Linked DNA regions of Homo sapiens. The protein of the gene in region 3 purifies or fractionates together with the protein of the main gene of each other region. This does not show direct contact. Each region holds a gene or a part of one and is shown on either strand. Other genes may lie near its edges.

What was found.
Region 1: the proteins of HSPG2 (region 3) and AKIRIN2 purify together in Homo sapiens (co-immunoprecipitation; one large-scale study listed by IntAct). This does not show direct contact.
Region 2: the proteins of HSPG2 (region 3) and LOXL2 purify together in Homo sapiens (co-immunoprecipitation; one study listed by IntAct). This does not show direct contact.

What each region holds. Positions count from the first base shown.
Region 1 is NC_000006.12:87,695,637-87,699,287, forward strand, and holds part of AKIRIN2 (akirin-2), read right to left. Parts: intron 1-3,651. UniProt on the Homo sapiens protein: Molecular adapter that acts as a bridge between a variety of multiprotein complexes, and which is involved in embryonic development, immunity, myogenesis and brain development.
Region 2 is NC_000008.11:23,394,117-23,397,767, reverse strand, and holds part of LOXL2 (lysyl oxidase homolog 2 precursor), read left to right. Parts: intron 1-3,651. UniProt on the Homo sapiens protein: Mediates the post-translational oxidative deamination of lysine residues on target proteins leading to the formation of deaminated lysine (allysine).
Region 3 is NC_000001.11:21,832,738-21,836,388, reverse strand, and holds part of HSPG2 (basement membrane-specific heparan sulfate proteoglycan core protein isoform b precursor), read left to right. Parts: intron 1-751; coding exon 752-849; intron 850-1,443; coding exon 1,444-1,710; intron 1,711-2,463; coding exon 2,464-2,573; intron 2,574-2,774; coding exon 2,775-2,922; intron 2,923-3,004; coding exon 3,005-3,121; intron 3,122-3,651. UniProt on the Homo sapiens protein: Integral component of basement membranes. Component of the glomerular basement membrane (GBM), responsible for the fixed negative electrostatic membrane charge, and which provides a barrier which is both size- and charge-selective.

The DNA.
Region 1 (3,651 bases), on a different chromosome or scaffold from region 3:
CAGTGATAGGTACTTGAAAATACCTACTCCCACTCCTAATACCATTATCTAGTTTCATGAACCAACTATTCAAGAGGCCCAAACTTAACCCATGCTATTACTTCACATTCTTCTTTTATAAAGAGAAAAATCTCTTTTCAAATAGGAAAGATACTCACAACTGGGCACTTCCACTGAAGCTTTTATTCTCAATCTTTCAAAACGAAAGCTTTCTATCACTGTCTTTCTAGATCTATCAAAACACTTAGCAGAAAAAACCTGCCGGGCACAGTGGCTCAAATCTGTAATCCCAGCACTTTGGGAGGCTGAAGCGGGCAGATTGCTTGAGCCCCAGGAGTTTGAAACCAGCCTGGGCAACATGGTGAAACCCCATCTCTACAAAAAAATACAAAAATTAGCTGGGCATGGTGGCACATGCCTGTATCTCCAGGTACTTGAGAGGCTGAGGCAGGGGGATCATTTGAGCCCAGGAGGCAGATTGCAGTGAGCCGAGATTGTGCTGCTGCACTCCAGCCTGGGACAGAGCAAGACTGTCTCAGAAAACAAAAACAAAACAAAGACCCGATTAGTATGTACTACATTCTTTTTCCAATAAAGCCATTAAAAAACTGAAGAAATTTATATTATTCTCCTTTACATCTCAGGTTATGTCTCCGTGGCAACCATAGTGAATAGTACCTTCCACACCTAAAGAGGGGCTAACCTCTAATCTAGCCATGTTTAGCCTATGTGTTGCTGTGCTCAAGTTAGGCTTTATTTTCCTACCTTAATAAAAAAGCCGGGAGCTGGGCGCAGTGGCTCACGTCTGTAATCCCAGCACTTTGGGAGGCTGAGACGGGCAGATCATGAGGCCAGAAGATCGAGACCATCCTGGCTAATACGGTGAAACCCCATCTCTACTAAAAATACAAAATATTAGCCAGGCATGGTGGCGGGCACCTGTAGTCCCAACTACTTGGTAGGCTGAGGCAGGAGAATGGCGTGAACCCGGGAGGCAGAGCTTGCAGTGAGCCGAGATTGTGCCACTGCACTCCAGCCTGGGGGACAGAGTGAGACTCCATCCAAAAAAAAAAAAAAAAAAGCCAGGGAGGCCAGGCGCGGTGGCTCACGCCTGTAATCCCAGCACTTTGGGAGGCTGAGGCAGGTGGATCATGAGGTGAGGAGTTCAAGACCAACCTGACCAACATGGTGAAACCCCATCTCTTCTAAAAATACAAAAATTAGCCGGGCGTGGTGGTGTGCGCCTGTAATCCCGGCTACTCAGGAGGCTGAGGCAGGAGAATCTCTTGAAACTAGGAGGTGGAGGTTGCAGTGAGCTGAGATTGCGCCACTGCACTCTAGCCTAGGCGACAGAGTGAGACTCCGTCTCAAAACAAACGAACAAAAAAAAAGCCGGCGGCACAGGCTCACACCTATAATCCCAGCACTGTGTGAGGCCAAGGCAGTTGGACCACCTGAAGTCAGGAGTTCAAGACCAGCCATGCCAACATGGTGAAACCCCATCTCTACTAAAAATACAAAACAAAATCAGCCAGGTGTGGTGGCGCACGCCTGTAATCCCAGCTACTCCAGAGGCTGAGGCTCGAGAATCGCTTGAACCCAGGAGATGGAGGTTGCAATGAGTTGAGATCATGCCACTGCACTCCAGCCTGAGTAAGACTTTGTCTCAAGAAAAAAAAAAAAAAAAAGCTCTATATTAGTAATGAATACAACTGCAGTTTTTAATGGCCATAAACTTACAGGATTCTTAAATGCATAAATCACAGAAATATGCAGTAACTGCAGCTACATACACAGTCCTAAATAGAATATCAGGTTTAAGACTCAAAGTACAAAGACCATTAAAAACATTTATTTGCCAAATCCAGTGAGAAACTAGGAGCAACTTAACAGCTGTCTAAATAACCACAAAATATTAAAAAATACTTCTGGCTCAATGTAAATGACATCTGAAGAGAGATGCTGCCTCCTCCAACAGACGTCTCATTTGTTCGCCTAGAACCATTTATATTTCATTGAAGCCAGCTGGTGTCTCCGTTTGCAGGCATGCATCAATGTCTGGTGAACAATCTATGTTCCTGTAAACCCTTCCCCATTCACAAGCTGCAGTTTCCATTTTTAATGGCAAGTTTCCAGCAAGTACAATGAGTTCTTACAAAGGAACTTAACTCTTCACAGAATTCAATTCCTAAGGCAGATTAATGGTACCAAGCCATAAACAATGTGAATTAATGTGCCTAACAAACTCACAAATACATTAACATTCACAGAAGGGTATCTTCAGACCATTCATTCACTACATAATGAAAACAATGTGCTGGATTTGATTGACGGTCTCTTATAATGTTGCAATATTTTGGTTTTATTAAAATTCTTTCTTGGGAATGTCATGACAATCTTTTGGCTAAATGGTAGTATTATGAGATGTTTCAAAAACCAATAGTAAAGCATACTTTGGTTTTCAACTAACTTACCAGGGTAAGTATTGATGCAGCTACTAGAGGCATTCATTTCACCAACGATATTCAATGCTTCTGCTCCCCCTCCCCTTACTTCCACTGATCACTTTTCCTTTTCCATACCCAGGGGTATTATAAACCTCACTGCTGACACCCCACATGAGGGTAAGCAAACTTTTTCTGTAAACACCAGAGAGCAAATATGGAGTTTTCGGGGCAATATACTGTGTGTGACAACTATTAAACTCTGCCATCGTCACCTGCAATGAACAATACTTAAAAAAAAAAAAAAAAGAATGAGCACAGCTGTGTTCCAATAAAATTTTATTTATGGACACTGAAATTTGAATTTCACATAATTCTCACGTGTCACAAAATAATTCTTTTGATTCTTTTCCAACCATTTAAAAAATGTAAAGAACATTCTTAGCTCTCAGGCTACACAAAAATATGGCTATACTTTGTCAACCATCCCTAGACCCTGAACAGCATTTCTGAATTAGTAACACTTAGGTGTCCTAAAAAACAGGTTTGGGATAGCTGTGTGTTAAGGAGTCCCTAAAAAATTCATAATGCCAATTAGCATAATAAAGGCTCTAAGCCTTGCGGTTAAGAAAGCAAGCTTAACTTCCGTCAGCTCAGCTAGTCCTTCCTTTTTCCTAGTATTAAGTTGCAACAGTTTGAAAAATATTTAAATAAGAATAGTCAAGTCAAACTTCCTGGGATGACTAAAATGATAGCTAAGGTTTAAAACAGACATCCAAGTTCCTGAAACTAATAAAGCCACAACATGACTTCAGCTATGCCATCAGAAACTGAAAGTATCTAGAGGAGAACAATGATAAAATAAAGTGTATACATGCTCTGAAAAAAAGTCACTTTAGTACTCTAGTTCTACATTAATTTGTATTATATTTGAACTCACAGATGTGAAAGGAAAACAAAGAGTTCCCACAAGTTTGCCAATCTCAATTTGGTAAGCCACTGTCTACTTCCAAACCTAACTACTCATTTTAGTTAATGACAGATGGGTATTTACTCCCATAAAGTTTAAGAATAATCGGTGTTAAAATAGGAAGCTAAAAATCAGGTGCATGAGAAAATTATTTCCAAGTTTACTAACATGAAAACTGGGAAGCTCTTTGATACCTGCACAACACTGCAGCTCCCATTATGACATTACAAAAAACAT
Region 2 (3,651 bases), on a different chromosome or scaffold from region 3:
TTGCTCTGTTGCCCAGGCTGGGAGTGCAGTGGCGCGATCTCGGCTCACTGCAAGCTCCGCCTCCCAAGTTCACGCCATTCTCCTGCCTCAGCCTCCTGAGTAGCTGGGACCACAGGCGCCCGCCACCATACCCAGCTAATGTTTTCTATTTTTAGTAGATACAGGGTTTCACCGTGTTAGCCAGGATGGTCTCGATCTCCTGACCTCGTGATCCACCCGCCTGGGCCTCCCAAAGTGCTGGGATTACAGGCGTGAGCCACTGTGCCTGGCCGGAAAAGCATATTTCTAAAGATGATTTCACCCACCCCAAGAATAGCATATCTAGGTAAAATCACATGATCCTAAGTATATACCCACATAGGCTTTTTGGGTTGCTTTTGTGTTTATTGTGGTAAAATATACGTAACATAAAACTCACCATCTTAACTATTTTCAAGTGTACAGTGCAGTGGCGTTAAGTGTGTTGACACTGCTGTGCTACCATCACCATCAGCCATCTCTGGTACTTTTGCATCTTCCAAAACAGAAACTCTGTACCCATTGAACACTAACTCCACTCTCCCCCTCCGACCAATCCCTGGCAGCCCCCATTCTACTTTCTGTCTCTGTGACTATGACTGAACTAGGTACTTCATATAAGTGGAATATATTATATTTGTCTTTTCGTGTCTGGCTCATTTTACTTAGCATGGCTTCCAGGTTTTTTCACGTTGTAACCTGTGTCAGAATTTCCTTCCTTGTTGAGCCTGAATAATATCCCACTGTATGGATAGACCACATTTGTTTATCTCCTCCTCCACTGGTGGACATGTGAGTTGTTTCCACCTTTTGGTGACTGGGAATAATGCTGCTGTGAACATTGGTGTACAAATGCCTGTTATGGATGAACTTTTACAAAGTGAACATGCCCTTGCTACTACATCAAGAATAGAACATTAGCAAGAATGCATGAATTTAAAGGCAAAGCAGGAGATTTCAAATACGTTTCATGCCCAAACATGGCTGCTTCAATTACACCTCAAGATCTTGGGACTGGATATTGATTTTCTCTACCATGAGGGGGTTTGGAAGAGATATTTGAAAGAACACAGTTAATAATCTGTGATTTGAAAGAGTCAGTTTATAATCACAGATTAGTTATGAGATTTAAGTAGCTCCTTTCCTTAAAACGTCTAGGGATGGGAGTACAACCTGTTGAGATTTGCAATTGTAGCTGTGTTAGGGTATCACCACTAGGATCATTCCAGGCTGCCCCTTGGCCATTGTAGGGTTCAAATCCACCTGGAGAACTCCTGCCTTTCTGGCAGCTTCTGCTGGAGCACAAGTCTAAGCCCATTCTTTGGCCGTATCCTGCCTGCCCTCCTCATTTCCTTCCTCCCTCCTTCCCTTCCCACCTGATCTCTCTCTCGTTTTTTTGTTTGTTTGTTTGTTTGTTTGTTTGTTTGTTTTTGAGACTGAGTTTTGCTCTTGTTGTCCAGGCTGTAATGCAATGGCACGATTTGGCTGACCGCAACCTCCACCTCCTGGGTTCAAGCGATTCTCTTGCCTCAGCCTCCCGAGTAGCTGGGATTACAGGCATGTGCCACCACACCCTGCTAATTTTGTATTTTTAGTAGAGACAGGGTTTCTCCATGTTGGTCAGGCTGCTCCCGAACTCCCGACCTCAGGATCCTGCCGCAGCCTCCCAAAGTGCTGGAATTACAGGTGTAAGCCACCGTGCCCAGACTTCTCTCTCTTCTTAAGTAGAACGATTTATCAGTGACTCTAAGAGTTTATGTGTGTATTTAGAAATAAGGCCAGGCACAGTGGCTCACACCTGTAATTCTAGTACTCTGGGAGGCCAAGGTTGGGGGATTGCCTGAGCTCGGGAGTTCGAGACCAGCCTGGGCAACAGGGTAAAACCCCATCTCTACTAAAATTACAAAAATTAGCCAGTCATGGTGGTGCACGCCTGTAATCCCAGCTACTCAGGAGGCTGAGGCGGAGGTTACGGTGAGCCAGGATTGTGCCACTGTGCTCCAGCCTGGGCGACAGAGTAAGACTCTGCCTCCAAAAATAATAAAATAATAATAATAAAGTCTTCAGTCAAGAGTAATATTTTGATGCCTGGCAACCACCCCCAGGCTGCCTGCATGACACTTTCAAGTGTCATCGAAGTAGATTCTTTTTTAAAAGACTTTATTGAGATATAATTTGCATATCATCCAATTCACCCATTAAAATGTACAAGTCAATGGATTTCAGTATATTCACAGATATGTGCAAATATCACCCCAGTCAACTTTAAAATGTTTTCATCAACACAAAGAGAAGTCCATATCCGTTAGCCACCACCGCCTATCCTCCCAGCCTTAAACAGCCACTAATCTAGTTTCTGTCTCTATATTGCCAATTTTGTATAATTTGTGTAAATAGAATCATATAATATGTGGTTTTTTTTTTTTTTTTTTGGTCTGGCTTTTTTCACTTCCCTTAATGGTTTTTTTGTTGTTGTTTCTTTGTTTTGTTTTGTTTTGAGACGGAATCTTGCTCTGTCACCAGGCTGGAGTGCAGTGGCGCCATCTCGGCTCACTGCAACCTCCGTCTCCCAGGTTCAAGCGATTCTCCTGCCTCATCCTCCCAAGTAGCTGGAACTACAGGCGTGCGCCACAATACCCAGCTAATTTTTGTATTTTTAGTAGAGACGGGGTTTCACCATGTTGGCCAGGATGGTCTCGATCTCTTGACCTCGTGATCCGCCCACCTTGGCCTCCCAAAGTGCTGGGATTACAGGCGGGAGCCACGGTGCTCCCCTAATGTTTTTAAGCCTCACCATGTGTCAGTATCTCGTTACTTTTTATGGCCGAATAATATTCTATTGTATGGGCATACCGTATTTTGTTAATCCATTTATAGTTGACAGACATTTGGGTTGTTTCCACCCTTTGAGTATTATGAATAATACTGCTATGAACATTCATGTAAAAGTTTTGTTTGAACACCTGTTTCAATGTGTTTCAATTTTGGGGGGGTATATACTTAGGAGGGGGGTTGCTGGGTCATATAGTAATTCTATGTTTAGCTTTTTGAGGAATCACCAAATTGTTTTTCACAGTGGCTGTAGTATTTTACATTTCCACTAGCAACGTATGAGGATTCTAATTTCTCCACATCTTTGGGGACACTTTTTATTTTCCCCTTAAGAAAATTCCAGCCACCTTTATGGGTATGAAGTGGTATCTCATGGTACTTTGTGTTTGCTTGATGACGAGTGATGTATCACACCTTTTTATGTGCTTGTAAGCCATTTGTATATCTTCTTTGGGGAAGTGTCTATTTAAGTTTTTGCCCATTTTTAATTGGGTTGGTTGTCTTTTTTTTTTTTTTTTTTTCTCTGAGACAGAGTCTCACTCTGTCACCTAGGCTATAGTGCAGTGGCACGATCTCGGCTCATTGCAACCTCCACCTCCCGAGTTCAAGCGATTCTCCTGCCTCAGCCTCCCGAGTAGCTGGGACTACAGGCACGCGCTACCGTATCTGACTAATTTTTGTATCTTTAGTAGAGACAAGGTTTCACCATGTTGGCCAGGCTGGTCTTGAACTCCTGACCTCAGGTGATCCGCCCACCTCGGCCTCCCAAAGTGCTAGGATTACAGGCATGAGCCACCGTGC
Region 3 (3,651 bases):
GATCGCACCATTGCACTCCAACCTGGGTGACAAGAGCAAAACTCCATCTCAAAAAGAAAAAAGACTGAAAGGAGATTGTCTGAAGCACTTGCACAGTGCTTGGTGCTTGGAAGGCCTTCAGTAAACAGTGGCCCATTCATATTTATTATTAGCGGAGGAAAGAGAACAGGCCCTGGGGCCAGAAATACACAAATGACCCCAGATCTCAGCTCTGCTACTTGATAACTGTGTAATCTTGAGCCCTAGACCATAAGGTCTTTGTCTAAAATGAGTGTGGTGCCCCCCAACCTGCCTGCCTACCTCTAGTGGTTATTGGGAAACTAGAATGCAACACTGCGTGCTGTTCTACATCAGTTTTTAATGCCCACACAATTGCAAAGCATTCTTTTTTTTTTTTTTTTTTTTGAGATGGAATCTTACTCTGTCACCCACGCTGGAGTGCAGTGGCGCAATCTCGGCTTACTGCAACCTCCGCCTCCCGGGTTCAAGCGTTTCTCGTGCCTCAGTCTCCCAAGTATCTGGGATTACAGGCGTGTGCCACCACGCCTGGCTAATTTTTGTATGTTTAGTAGAAACAGGGTTTCACCATGTTGGCCAGGCTGGTCTCAAGCTCCTGATCTCAAGTGATGCGCCTGCCTCAGCCTCCCAAAGTGCTGGGATTACAGGCGTGAGCCACCACGCCCAGCCCAATTGCAAAGCATTCTATCAGTTGTTTTCAACTCCCTGATGTCTTATTATTTTTTCTTTATAGAATCCAGAACTTGGACCAGAGCTGCCAAGGGACGTATATATGCCAGGCCCATGGACCTTGGGGGAAGGCCCAGGCCAGTGCCCAGCTGGTTATCCAAGGTAGGAGGGTGGCTTCAGGCCTCTGCTAAGAGCAGGGAACAGAGATGAGAAAGGCAGAGAGGCACAAGGCCCAGACCCTGTTCCCTAGGAATCCCCCTAAATGTGTCAGAATAAAGAGAATTATTCCATTTTGCCTTGCTTGTGTCTAGCATAGAGTAAAAGGGGCTTGATACATATTTCAAGGGAGGGAAGAAGGATATGGATGGAGTGTGTGAGTGCTCAGATGAACCGATGAAGATTGAATCAGTGTGAACCGGGCATGGTGGAACGCACCTGTAGTCCCACCTACTCAGGAGGCTAAGCTGGGAGCATTGCTTGAGCGCATGAATTCTAGGCTGTGGTGAGCCGTGATCACACCTGTGAATACAACCAAGACCCTTTGTCTAAAAAAAAAAAAGAAGTGGACACGTGAGTGAGTAAATGCATAAGACCTGACAAGTGAGTGTGTTTGTGAGTGAATGCATGAAAAAGTGAATGAGGAGTGAATGAATGCTGGAGCTTCAGTGCTCACCTTTCCTTGGGCAGTCTATGGCCTCCCTCGGGCCAGGCCTGCAGTGACTGATCTCACTGGACCTCTGCCTCCCTCCTCCCCAGCCCTGCCCTCGGTGCTCATCAACATCCGGACCTCTGTGCAGACCGTGGTGGTTGGCCACGCCGTGGAGTTCGAATGCCTGGCACTGGGTGACCCCAAGCCTCAGGTGACATGGAGCAAAGTTGGAGGGCACCTGCGGCCAGGCATTGTGCAGAGCGGAGGTGTCGTCAGGATCGCCCACGTAGAGCTGGCTGATGCGGGACAGTATCGCTGCACTGCCACCAACGCAGCTGGCACCACACAATCCCACGTCCTGCTGCTTGTGCAAGGTGAAGGCCAGTGGGGACTTTTGTTGGGGGACAGTGAGTGGGGCAGGGGCTTCTCCTGCTGCCATCTTCTGCCTGCCCGCTCTGCTCTTCCTTTCTGTTCACTTGGGACATTTTCCATTGTGTGTGTTTAAGGGGCAGGTTTCATAACAGGTGGCAGCAGCAGGGGATAAAAGTGAGATTCCCCCAGGGCAGCCTGGAATGTACAGGGAGAGAGCTAGGCCATAGAGCATCAAGAAGAAAAAAGAAACCTTGTCCTCATCTGCAGGGAGTGCCTGCTCTGCTGGGAGAGACCTGCAGCATAGTCTGAGGGCAGAGACATAACCCAGTCAACAAACAGACCTAATAGAGAGTAAAACAAGGACAACAGATGCAGGGCAGACACAAACACTGTGTGTTCTTTAAAGGCAATTCCTTTTTACCCCAAGCCCTGTGACTTGCCTCCAAACTTCCTTACCTATACTGCCCCTAGTGTGCACTTCTCAGGTCCCCAAAGGGCTGCACAATTTTTTGCCCAGGCATGTTGAAGAGGTCTCAGGCTGTGGAGTGAAATGGATCTGGCCCTGAACCCTGACTCTGCCCGACCAGGAGCAAACAGCCGCTTTTCCCCTCTGAGCCATAATTTCCTCATCTGTGAAATGGAATGTAGTGGCTTCCTTCAAGGGGTGGTGTGAAGATGAAATGAATCAGGGTGCAGGCTGGGCACATATCTGTGACTGTCATGTTGATGGCCTATGTCTCTTCCATGCCTCTCAGCCTTGCCCCAGATCTCAATGCCCCAAGAAGTCCGTGTGCCTGCTGGTTCTGCAGCTGTCTTCCCCTGCATAGCCTCAGGCTACCCCACTCCTGACATCAGCTGGAGCAAGGTAAGTGCTGGAGAGGGAACCAGCGGGCATGACTTGGGGGCTGGGAACAGATCTGAAGCGTCTCAGTGTCCCCAGGATGTGGCACAGGCTTGGCCAAGAGCAAACGCTCAATGTTGGAAGGTGGGCCTGAGGCACAGATGGGAGGTGGGCCCCTGGAGCCGTGGGCCAAGGCCAGGGCCCTCAGTGCTAGTGCATTTGCAGCTGGATGGCAGCCTGCCACCTGACAGCCGCCTGGAGAACAACATGCTGATGCTGCCCTCAGTCCGACCCCAGGACGCAGGTACCTACGTCTGCACCGCCACTAACCGCCAGGGCAAGGTCAAAGCCTTTGCCCACCTGCAGGTGCCAGGTAAGACACCACCCCTAAGAATTGGCAGTGCCCTGCCCACTCCCTGACTGGCAGGGTCTTCAGCTGTGCTCTCTGCTGGCAGAGCGGGTGGTGCCCTACTTCACGCAGACCCCCTACTCCTTCCTACCGCTGCCCACCATCAAGGATGCCTACAGGAAGTTCGAGATCAAGATCACCTTCCGGCCCGACTCAGCCGATGGTGAGCAGGAGGGTTAATTTGCGGGGTGGGCTGGCCTGGGTTGAGGGACCTCGTGGAGTAACTGCCATCATGGCAGGAGCCCTGGCTGCCCCTCAGTCCTGCCCCAATCCCTCAGCCCTCCCTCTCCAGAAGCCCCCAGACCTCTGGGCCTCCACCCTGGTGTGCCTTCTCTTGTGCCTCCCGGCTTCTCCATCCCTGCCTCTGTGATATCTCCAGCCTCCTCGTGGCTCCTCTGCCACCGGGGCATCACCCCCAGTCCTCCTGTCCCAGCTTCCTTTCCCCATCTCTGCTCCTTCCTCCCTCCTCTGCCTCCATCTCACCCTTTCCTCCTCTCTTTCTCTCGTCTCTTACGGGTCTCTGACTTTCACTGTCCAGGCCTCCTTCTCTACTCGGGTGAGTCTCTGCCTCCCTCTCCCCCTTGAGGGAGACTCCAGTGTGTGTGAAGCAAATTCAGTTTCTTTCTAGGGGCGCTCAGTAAGGCCCTTGCGTTTGGGGCACCAGCCCTGAGATAGTGAGAAGGCCCTGGCTGT